Linked DNA regions of Homo sapiens. The protein of the gene in region 1 purifies or fractionates together with the protein of each later gene. This does not show direct contact. Each region holds a gene or a part of one and is shown in the gene's direction. Other genes may lie near its edges. The genes, in order: PXYLP1, WDTC1 and GNPTG.

Evidence for each region.
Region 2: the proteins of PXYLP1 (region 1) and WDTC1 purify together in Homo sapiens (affinity purification with mass spectrometry; one large-scale study listed by BioGRID and IntAct). This does not show direct contact.
Region 3: the proteins of PXYLP1 (region 1) and GNPTG purify together in Homo sapiens (affinity purification with mass spectrometry; one large-scale study listed by BioGRID and IntAct). This does not show direct contact.

Annotation. Positions count from the first base shown.
Region 1 is NC_000003.12:141,276,680-141,280,328, forward strand, and holds part of PXYLP1 (2-phosphoxylose phosphatase 1), read left to right. Parts: intron 1-1,662; coding exon 1,663-1,821; intron 1,822-2,698; coding exon 2,699-2,825; intron 2,826-3,649. UniProt on the Homo sapiens protein: Responsible for the 2-O-dephosphorylation of xylose in the glycosaminoglycan-protein linkage region of proteoglycans thereby regulating the amount of mature glycosaminoglycan (GAG) chains.
Region 2 is NC_000001.11:27,286,631-27,290,279, forward strand, and holds part of WDTC1 (WD and tetratricopeptide repeats protein 1), read left to right. Parts: intron 1-1,043; coding exon 1,044-1,231; intron 1,232-3,649. UniProt on the Homo sapiens protein: May function as a substrate receptor for CUL4-DDB1 E3 ubiquitin-protein ligase complex.
Region 3 is NC_000016.10:1,358,282-1,361,930, forward strand, and holds part of GNPTG (N-acetylglucosamine-1-phosphotransferase subunit gamma precursor), read left to right. Parts: intron 1-3,461; coding exon 3,462-3,516; intron 3,517-3,590; coding exon 3,591-3,649. UniProt on the Homo sapiens protein: Non-catalytic subunit of the N-acetylglucosamine-1-phosphotransferase complex, an enzyme that catalyzes the formation of mannose 6-phosphate (M6P) markers on high mannose type oligosaccharides in the Golgi apparatus.

The DNA of each region.
Region 1 (3,649 bases):
AGAATAACGAGATCGGGGGTAGTGCACATATACCATTTTGATGGCTACTGCCAAACACTCCCGAGAGGTGCCGGTTTCCACCCTCCCCATGATGTTTGGAAGCGTCAGGTTTCTCACACCCTTCCCAATATTGAGTGTTATCATTAAAACATGATTTTCCAGTTTGATGAGGAAAAATTATTAATATAGTCCACTGTTTGATTTATATTTCTTTAATTATGAATAAACAATTATGAAAAACAGTATCACACTGTTGTTTTATCTGTATCTAATTATGAACAAACTTAAGCATCTCTTCATGTGTTTATTGGCCATTGGTATTTATTTTTCTGCGATTAGCCTGTTCATATCCTTTAATGATTTTTCAGGTGTAGGGTCTCTTATGGACTTTGGATATTAATCATTTGTCTGTTAGGTTAGTTGCAAATATTTTTCTCTCAGTGTGTTGCCTTTTATCTTTGTTTATGGCATCTGTTTGCCAAAGGGAAGTTTTAAATATTTATGTAGAAGAATTTGTAGAAGTAATTAGGGAATTTACATTGATTTAGGCTGGTGGTTGGTCCCTGTTTTAGCTATTGTTCGTGCGCATGTGTAGATATTATGGTGATTAATAAATCTTTTAGAAGTTAAAAAGATCTGTGAGCACACTTATTTTCATGTGTTTCCCTCAAAGGGCGGATGCTGAAAGTATGACTATACTGTGTTGGGAGTTCTAGAGGATCTATGATGCTACAAAGACATTCCCTAGGCACGGAGAGATTAGGGACCACTGAGACAGAAGCTGTTCATGAGGGATAGATGGCTGGGCAGCCCCACATTTCCATTCTTACAGATTAGCATCCGAAAGAAAAAGAGCACCTCTTCTAGAGTCTGTATATCACCTGTCTCGAGGAAAGGGAGTCCAGTTGCCCCATTACTACCCTTATTGACTCTGGTCACATGTCCACCCCTGCCAGGGGGTGGGGACACTGTGATTGACAGTCCAGCCTGACCACACGTGGTGGTGAAGGGTCAGCTCACTAATGGAATGAGGGTAGTAGATGGACAAGCACACAGATTGCAAGACCCACACATGCCACGCCGAAGACAGTGGCAGGGAAGCTGGCCTGAAGTCAAGGAGTAAGCGTGAGACAGGCTTTCACCCACCACACATGCCTTGGTCCTTGGCTTTCTTCTGTAAAGTGCTCTCATGGGTTAGATGAGCGACTCTGAAGGCCCACAAAGCATAAAGCAGATGATGATAAATGGGATATGTCAGACACCCACATCTGGCACCTAGCAGGTCTTCAATGAGGAATGATGGTTTTCCTCCTTCTTGTTGTTACTGGAATTAAAGGGCATTAGGAAGAGGTAATCAGGTCCTAAGAAGTTAGTGTGTGAGTTCTTCCTCCAACTGCCCTGAGAGAGGCCCCTTTGCTTGGGAGGCTCCCCTGGTGTTGAATAGATGATAAGGAGAGGGTAGTGGCAGTGACGAAGGGGCAGGACACAGTGGGGCTCAGAAGCCCTTCTTGAATGGGAAGCTGACTTCTGCTCCACTGAAGTGCACCTTGATTCTCAGTGTAAGAATAGCTCCTCAAAGTGAAATCCAGCCCTGCGCTGGGCCTTGCAGCTGGCCTGGCGCCCCAGGAACTGTGCGTCACAACCTGCCTTACTTCGTTTCAGTCCACCTGATCCCGGTGTCGACTCCTAAGAATGGAATGAGTAGCAAGAGTCGAAAGAGAATCATGCCCGACCCTGTGACGGAGCCCCCTGTGACAGACCCCGTTTATGAAGCTCTTTTGTACTGCAACATCCCCAGCGTGGCCGAGCGCAGCATGGAAGGTAGGCCTGACTGTGCCACCAGGACAGATACCCCTTTGGGGACTAGTTATTCCAGCAGCATTGCACAGCAGTAAGGAGCAAGATGGCCAGGACCCAAGTCCTGCAGTTGCCACCAGGCTGTGCCCTTGAATGAGTTCCTGGGTCCTTGCATTCTCCTCTATAAAATGGGAGTAACTCACAGGACTTATGCCTGGGACTGGGGAGGTTTCAGTAACTGCTCTGAACATACCACGTGGCTCACGATCAACCCACCACAAATGTTTGCCATCATCATGATCTTTAGTGAGACAGCAGCAAGGTAGAAAGGTGGCCTTGGCAGGCACTAGTGCAGCACATTGAGACACTCTGCTTTTCAGGGTAGCCTCTTGGGACTCAGGATGTCCACAGGATGTCCTGCTGGCGTCTTGCCATAGAAGTGAGGCAATTTCTACAAGTTTTGCTTTTGTAAAAGTGTATCAGAGCATAGTGTTGAATCCTTATTGATCTCTTTATGCCTTCTCTGGTCTCATGAAAGATTTAAAGCAGAAATCATTGTTTCTAGTATTTCCGTGGCTCTCTCCCTGGTCTGTGCATGTGAGTGAGGCCACATTAGTAGTCATGCCCGCATTTCACCAGCCTCCCGTTGTTTCCAGGAGGTCTGGGACATAATCAGCCTACTCATGTTCCTCTGTCCCGCCTTGTAAGACTATTCAGTGGCCCCCATCCAGAATGGCAGCCAGGGCCCCTTCACTGTGGTGGCTCTGCAAACCCACGGTGGCCCCTGCTGCCTCCGGCTCAGATTCCCAGCCCAAATGTGGCCAGGTCATCCCCTTGGCCCCCTTCTAAAAGGATTGACACCTATTGAGTGATAACCAGACAATGTGCTTCTCTCGCGCAGGTCATGCCCCGCATCATTTTAAGCTGGTCTCAGTGCATGTGTTCATTCGCCACGGAGACAGGTACCCACTGTATGTCATTCCCAAAACAAAGCGACCAGAAATTGACTGCACTCTGGTGGCTAACAGGTAAATTGCACTTTTTCTAAAAGTCATTTTCAAGTGTCTGTTATATCCTGTAGGATAGAGAATGACAGGACCTACACTTGGTGAACCATACTGTTTGCAGGAGCCTGAGCTCAGAGCAGTCCTACATGTGAGTGCCATTATACAGTTGAAAAGATGGAGGCCCACAGAGGCGGGGACACCTGTTTGAAGCAACACAGCAGATATACTGAGCCCAGGCCAGTCTGAGGCTCACCCTCCCACCCTGATGTTTTTCACTTTAATAAACAGTTGGGACACAGTACAGTGAGCACTGAGTTAAGAGTCCTCCGCCCCAGCTCACCTGCTCCATTCAGAGCAGCGGGCAAGCCCCTTAGTGTCCTCTGAGCCTCAGCCTCCTACCTCTGAAACGGGGATCACAAGGCTCCCCATGCAAAGTTGGGGCAAAGAGTAAGTGAGATGACACAGACAAATGCACGTTAGCAATTGCAGAGCCATATAAATGTAAGAATTATTTCACCCTTCTAATTTTTCACTGGAGTAGAGGCAGCCTGTTCTTGGTTGAAAGCCCTTAGGATGAAAAATAATTGAACAGAGTGTGGAAATTGTATGGAAATGGCATGGCTCTAAAATTAGAGGCATAGTTAGCAATAAAATATTGGGCTAGACCTCAGCAAATGTGTCTGGAGGCACATAACATTCTAGCAGAGTTTAGTGAATGAGGTCAGGAGATGAAGTGCTCAGTGGGGAAGACGTTATTTTGATGGAATGCTTCTGGGATGCCAGCCTGCCCCGGGAGGGCGAGCCTGGTGGAGCCATGGATTACCTCACTACAGCCAGGGCTGTTC
Region 2 (3,649 bases), on another chromosome or scaffold:
TTTTTATATTTTTAGTAGAGACGGGGTTTCACCGTGTTAGCCAGGATGGTCTGGATCTCCTGACCTTGTGATCTGCCCGCCTCAGCCTCCCAAAGTGCTGGGATTATAGGCATGAGCCACCACGCCTGGCCTGGATTATTTCTTGGAAGTGGAAGTTTTGAGTCAAAAACTAGAAATTGTTTTTAATCTTTGTTACTATTACCAGATTGTTTTTCAGAAGCAGTCAAACTAATTTAAAACACTCACTCCCAACAGGGCATTCTGGCTCATGCCTACAATCCCAGCACTTTGGGAGGCCAAGGCAGGTGGATCACCTGAGGTCAGGAGTTCGAGACCAGCCTGGCCAACATGGTGAAACCCTGTCTCTACTAAAAATACAAAAATTAGCTGGGCGTGGTGGTGCACACCTGTAATCCCAGCTACTCAGGAGGCTGACACAGGAGAATCGCTTGAACCCGGGAGGTGGAAGTTGCAGTGAGCCGAGATTGCACCACTGCACTCCAGCCTGGGTGACAGAGCGAGACGCTGTCTCAAAAAAAAAAAACAAAAAAAACCCACACACACCCATTCCCTTAAACACTCAAAGTCTTTTTCACTTCAGGACTAATTTATTACTTAATCTCTAGGTTACTAAGTAGTCATAATGAGGCAAGTAGGGCATGTGGGAGTCAGACAGACTTGGGCTTGAACACAATCTTGCTGTATATTACTGCTGAACCTCAAGGGTTTGTTTTGTTTTTTGTTGTTGTTGTTGTTTTTGAGACAGTCTCGCTCTGTTGCCCAGGCTGGAGTGCAGTGGCACAATCTCGGCTCACTGCAGCCTCTGGCTTCCTGCAGCCTCTGCCTCCTGGGTTCAAGGGATTTTCCTGCCTCAGCCTGCTGAGCAGCTGGGATTACAGGCATGAGCCACCGCGCCCAGCCTGCATGGGCTCATTCTCTTATCTGACATGGAGAGAGAAAAGGGTGCAGACATCCAGGCTAGCCTCCTTCCGTGGCCATTTCTACTCTTACCACCCACCCCTTCCTCCATTTCTCCTATATAGTTCCTGCCTCACGCTGGGGACCGCATCTTGATCACGGGGGCAGCCGACTCTAAGGTGCATGTGCACGACCTGACAGTAAAGGAGACCATCCACATGTTTGGAGACCACACAAACCGGGTGAAGCGCATCGCCACAGCGCCCATGTGGCCCAACACATTCTGGAGTGCTGCTGAGGATGGGCTTATCCGGTAAGAGTCTGGGGCATCTAGTGGAGCCTGTCGCTCCCCCATCCCATCATCCTATAGTGTTTCCTTCTACAGACCTAGCTCTTTCCCTCCAGCAGAGGTCCAACCTCCTTTGTCTGCCCAGGGCAGTTGTCTGTGTACAAACTCCACTGGGAACATTTGCTTACTCCGCCCTCACCTTCCTCCCTCTTTGCCCTCCTTTGTACTACCTCTAGGCCCACAAGCTTTTTCTCACCACCTCAGGTGTCCAGGGTCTCTACTGCCTCTGGGCATTCACGTTACTCTTTCCTCTACTTGAGATTCTCTGTCCCCAGCTCTTCCCATGTCGGACTCTTTCTTATCCTAAGGAGATCAGCTTCAGTTACCTCTTCAGAAGCACCTTCTCTGACCATCCTGTCTAAAGTAGACAGACGTTATGCTTGTTTTAACAATTATATCCTCTGTAACTCTAATTGCCACCTGTAGTTATTTTTATTAATTAATTAATTTTTATTTATTTATTTTTTTTTTTATTGATCATTCTTGGGTGTTTCTCGCAGAGGGGGATTTGGCAGGGTCATATGACAATAGTGGAGGGAAGGTCAGCAGATTAACAAGTGAACAAAGGTCTCTGGTTTTCCTAGGCAGAGGACCCTGCGGCCCTCTGCAGTGTTTGTGTCCCTGGGTACTTGAGATTAGGGAGTGGTGATGACTCTTAATGAGCATGCTGCCTTCAAGCATCTGTTTAACAAAGCACATCTTGCACCGCCCTTAATCCATTTAACCCTGAGTGGACACAGCACATGTTTCAGAGAGCACAGGGTTGGGGGTAAGGTCACAGATCAACAGGATCCCAAGGCAGAAGAATTTTTCTTAGTACAGAACAAAATGAAAAGTCTCCCATGTCTACTTCTTTCTACACAGACACGGCAACCATCCGATTTCTCAATCTTTTCCCCACCTTTCCCCCCTTTCTATTCCACAAAACCGCCATTGTCATCCTGGCCCGTTCTCAATGAGCTGTTGGGTACACCTCCCAGACGGGGTGGTGGCCAGGCAGAGGGGCTCCTCACTTCCCAGTAGGGGTGGCCGGGCAGAGGCACCCCTCACCTCCCGGACGGGGCGGCTGGCCGGGCGGGGGGCTGACCCCCCCCCCACCTCCCTCCCGGACGGGGCGGCTGGCTGGGCGGGGGGCTGACCCCCCCACCTCCCTCCCGGACGGGGCGGCTGGCCGGGCAGGGGGCTGACCCCCCCACCTCCCTCCTGGACGGGGCGGCTGGCTGGGCAGAGGGGCTCCTCACTTCCCAGTAGGGGCGGCCGGGCAGAGGCGCCCCTCACCTCCCGGACGGGGCGGCTGGCCGGGCAGAGGGGCTCCTCACTTCCCAGACGGGGTGGTTGCCGGGCGGAGAGGCTCCTCACTTCTCAGACGGGGCGGCTGCCGGGCAGAGGGGCTCCTCAGTTCTCAGACGGGGTGGTTGCCAGGCAGAGGGTCTCCTCACTTCTCAGACGGGGCGGCTGGGCAGAGACGCTCTTCACCTCCCAGACGGGGTCGCGGCCGGGCAGAGGCGCTCCTCACATCTCAGACGATGGGCGGCCGGGCAGAGACGCTCCTCACTTCCTAGATGGGATGGCGGCCGGGCAGAGACGCTCCTCACTTTCCAGACTGGGCAGCCAGGCAGAGGGGCTCCTCACATCCCAGACGATGGGCGGCCAGGCAGAGACGCTCCTCACTTCCCAGACGGGATGGCGGCCAGGCAGAGGCTGCAATCTCGGCACTTTGGGAGGCCAAGGCAGGCGGCTGGGAGGTGGAGGTTGTAGCAAGCCGAGATCACGCCACTGCACTCCAGCCTGGGCACCATTGAGCACTGAGTGAACGAGACTCCGTCTGCAATCCCGGCACCTCGGGAGGCCGAGGCTGGCGGATCACTCGCGGTTAGGAGCTGGAGACCGGCCCGGCCAACACAGCGAAACCCCGTCTCCACCAAAAAAATACGAAAACCAGTCAGGCGTGGCGGCACGCGCCTGCAATCGCAGGCACTCGGCAGGCTGAGGCAGGAGAATCAGGCAGGGAGATTGCAGTGAGCCGAGATGGCAGCAGTACAGTCCAGCTTCGGCTCGGCATCAGAGAGAGACCGTGGAAAGAGAGGGAGAGGGAGACCGTGGAAAGAGAGGGAGAGGGAGACCGTGGGGAGAGGGAGAGGGAGACCGTGGGGAGGGGGAGGGGGAGAGGGAGAGGGAGCTAATTAATTTATTTTCTGAGACAGGGTCTCACTCCATTCTATTGCCGAGGTTGGAGTGCAGTGGCGTGATCATGGCTCACTGCAGCCTTGACTTCCTGGGCTCAGGCGATTCTCCCACCTCAGCCTCCTGAATACCTGGGACTACAGACACGCTCCACCATGCTTGGCTAATTTTTCTATTTTTTTTGTAGAGATGGGGTTT
Region 3 (3,649 bases), on another chromosome or scaffold:
TGCCCCGCTCCCCCAGCCCCGGCACCCACCATTCTGCTGTCTCTGAACTTGGCTATTCATAGACGTCACATAGGTGACTCATAACTGTGTGCGACCTTTTGTGTCTGACCAACTCCTCTTGGCACAGTGTCCCCAAGGTCCCCCAGGCTGGAGGCTCTCAGTGCTTCCTTTTTATATGGCTGAGGACTGTTCCACTGCAAGGACAGACCACGTTGTTGTTTACCCGTCATCTGTCCATGGACACTGGAGTGGCTTCCACCCTCTGCCTGGGAATAGGCTGCTGTGAACTTGGGTGTAAATATTTGAGTCTCTGCTTCCAATTTCTGAGAGTAGCTTTGCTGGATCTTATTAGAATTCCATGTTTAGCTTTTTGAGGAACCACCAAACTGTTTGCATAGTGGCTGCACCGTTTCCCATTCCAGCCAGCATTGCACGAGGGGTCCAGTTTCTCCACATTTTCACCAACACTGTTTTTTGCTAACAGCCATCCTAGTGGGTGTGAAGCGGTACCTTAGGGTTGTTTTAATTTGCATTTCCCTAATGATCAGTCATGTGGGATCTTTTCAGTTGCTTATGGTGTTTGTCCTTTTTTTTTTTTGAGATGGAGTCTCACTCTGTGGCCCAGACTGGAGTACAGTGGCGCCATCTTGGCTCACTGCAAGCTCTGCCTCCCAGGCTCAGGCGATTCTCCTGCCTCAGCCTCTCAAGTAGCTGGGATTACAGGCGTGAGCCACCACACCTGGCTCATTTTTATTTAGTAGAGACGGGGTTTCACCATGTTGGCCAGGCTGGTCTCAAACTCCTGACCTCATGATCCGCCTGCCTCGGCCTCCCGAAGTGCTGGGATTCCCGGCTTCTCTGCCCATTTTTAACTTGAGTTTATTGTTGGGCTGTAGTTCTGTGTTCTGGATGTGAGTCTCTTACATACGTGGTTTGCCAGTGTTTATTTTCTCCCATTCTGTGGGTTGTCTTTTCACTCCCTTGATGGGTTTGTTTTTTTTTCCATATAGAGTCTAACTCTGTAGCCCAGGCTGGAGTGCAGTAGCACGATCTTGGCTCACGGCAACCTCTCCACCTCCCAGGCTCAAGGAATTCTCCTGCCTCAGCCTCCCGAGTAGCTGGGACTGCAGGCATCCGCCATCACGCCTGGCTAATTTTTTTGTACTTTATTAGAGATCAGGTTTCACCATGTTGGCCAGGATGGTCTCGATCTCCTGACTTCGTGATCCGTCTGCCTCGGCCTCCCAAAGCACTGGGATTACAGGCGTGAGACCCTGCGCCCGGCCTCTATGCCAGTCTTTATGCCAGTATCACACTGTTTTGATCATAACAGCTTTGAAGTAATTTTTGGAATCAGTATGTACGAGTCTCTCAACTCTGTCTTTAAGATTTGTTCGATGATTTGGGGTCCTCTGAGACTCCCTATGAACTTTAGGATGTGTTTTTCTATTTCTGCAAAAACTGTCATTGGGGTTTTGATGGGGTTGCATTGAATCTGCAGATCACTCTGGGTGGTATTGTCATCTTAAAAATATTGAATCCATCAGGCTGGGCGCTGGGGCTCACGCCTGTAATCCCAGTACTTTAGGAGGCTGAGGCAGGTGGATCACCTGAGGTCAGGAGTTTGAGACCATCCTGGCCAACATGGAGAAACCCCGTCTCTACAAAAATACAAAAATTAGCCAGCCGTGATGGCAGGCACCGGTAATCCTAGCTACTGGGGAGACTGAGGCGGGAAAATCGGTTGAACCCAGTGGTGGAGATTGTAGTGAGCCAAGATCGTGCCACTGCAATCCAGCCTGGCGACAATGCTAGACTCCGTCTCAAAAAAAAAAAAGTGGCGTATGGATGTCTCATGTCAGCTTTATGTAGTGGGTGGCACTGTTTGTGCGTGGATAATTGTGGTGTCTTGGCACATTGACCCTTTTATCAATGTATAACATCTTTGTCTCTTAAAATAGTTTCAGCCACTTCAGCTCTCTTTTGCCTGTTTATATGAATACTTTTCCATACCTTCACTTTCAACCTGTTTATGTCTTTAAATCTGAAGTTAGTCTTTCAGGCCGGGCATAGTGGCTCACACCTGTAATCCCAGCACTTGGGAGGCCAAGGTGGACGGATCACTTCAGGTCCACAGTTGCAGACCAGCCTGGCCAACACAGTGAAACCCCGCCTCTGCTGAAGATACAAAAATTAGCTGGGCGTGGTGGCGGGCACGTGGGATCCCAGCTACTCGGGAGGCTGAGGCAGGGGAATCACTTGAACCCAGGAGGCGGAGGTTGCAGTGAGCCGAGATCGCGCCACTGCATTTCACCTTGGGTGACAGAGTGAGACTGTCTCCAAAAGAAAAAAAAGAATCTAATGCCTGATGAGCTGAGGTGGAACAGTTTCATCCCCAAACCACCCATCCCCACCCCCGGCTGGTAGAAAAACTGCCTTCCATGAAACCAGTCCCTGGTGCCAAAAAGATTGGGGACCACTGGTTTAAGTCCTGTAGCTTTACAGACCATAGCTAGAAAGGCAACTGGTATTAATTCACCCTGCACGAGGACCTCCGTCTGCCTCCGCTGAGCTGCTGTCTGCTCACTTCCCCGGGTGGCACACCGGCCTGCATGTAACCAACTCCTGAAGCTTTTATCTGGGAATGTCCTCTTTTTTGGGGGGTGGGGAAGACAGGGTCTTGCTCTGTCACGCAGGCTGGAGTGCAGTGGTACGATCTCAGCTCACTGCACTCTCCACCTCCTGGGTTCAAGAGATTCTCCTGCCTCAGCCTCCTGAGTAGCTGGGATTACAGGTGCGCGCCACTACACTCAGCTCATTTTTTCTGTGTGCTTTTTGTGTAGACACGGGGTTCTCACAGTGTTGCCCAGGCTGGTGTCATACTCCTGGCCTCAAGCAATCTTCCCGCCTTGGCCTCCCAAAGTGCTGGGATTACAGGCATGAGCCACGATAGCAAGCCTTAACTCTAATTTTTGAAGGGCTATTTTTAGAATTCTCGGTTTTGTCAGTTTCTTCCATTGAATGGTACCTGTTTTCCTGTTTCTTTGAACGTCTTGTGCTTTTTGTTGAAAACTGGTCCTTGGCCGGGCGCGGTGGCTCAAACCTGTAATCCCAGCACTTTGGGAGGCCGAGGTGGGTGGATCACGAGGTCAGGAGATCGAGACCATCCTGGCTAACGCGGTGAAACCCCGTCTCTACTAAAAATACAAAAAATTAGCCGGGCATGGTGGCGGGCGCCTGTAGTCCCAGCTACTTGGGAGGCTGAGGCAGGAGAATGGCGTGAACATGGGAGGCGGAGCTTGAAGTGAGCCAAGATCATGCCACTGCACTCCAGCCTGGGTGACAGAGTGAGACTCCATCTCAAAAAAAAAGAAAACTGGTCCTTTGAAAACAGACTCTGCCAGTCTTTGCAGACAGGTTCTGTGCTTGGACCCTGGGGATCAGTGTGAGGTCTCTTCCAGGACCCGTGCATCTCTTCCGACTCTCGGGCAAGTGCTTCAGCCTGGTGGAGTCCACGTGAGTGCAGGGTGGGTGCGAGGGTGGGCTGGGGCGCAGCCTGCGGACCCCCCTCATGCCATCTGTGTCCCCAGGTACAAGTATGAGTTCTGCCCGTTCCACAACGTGACCCAGCACGAGCAGACCTTCCGCT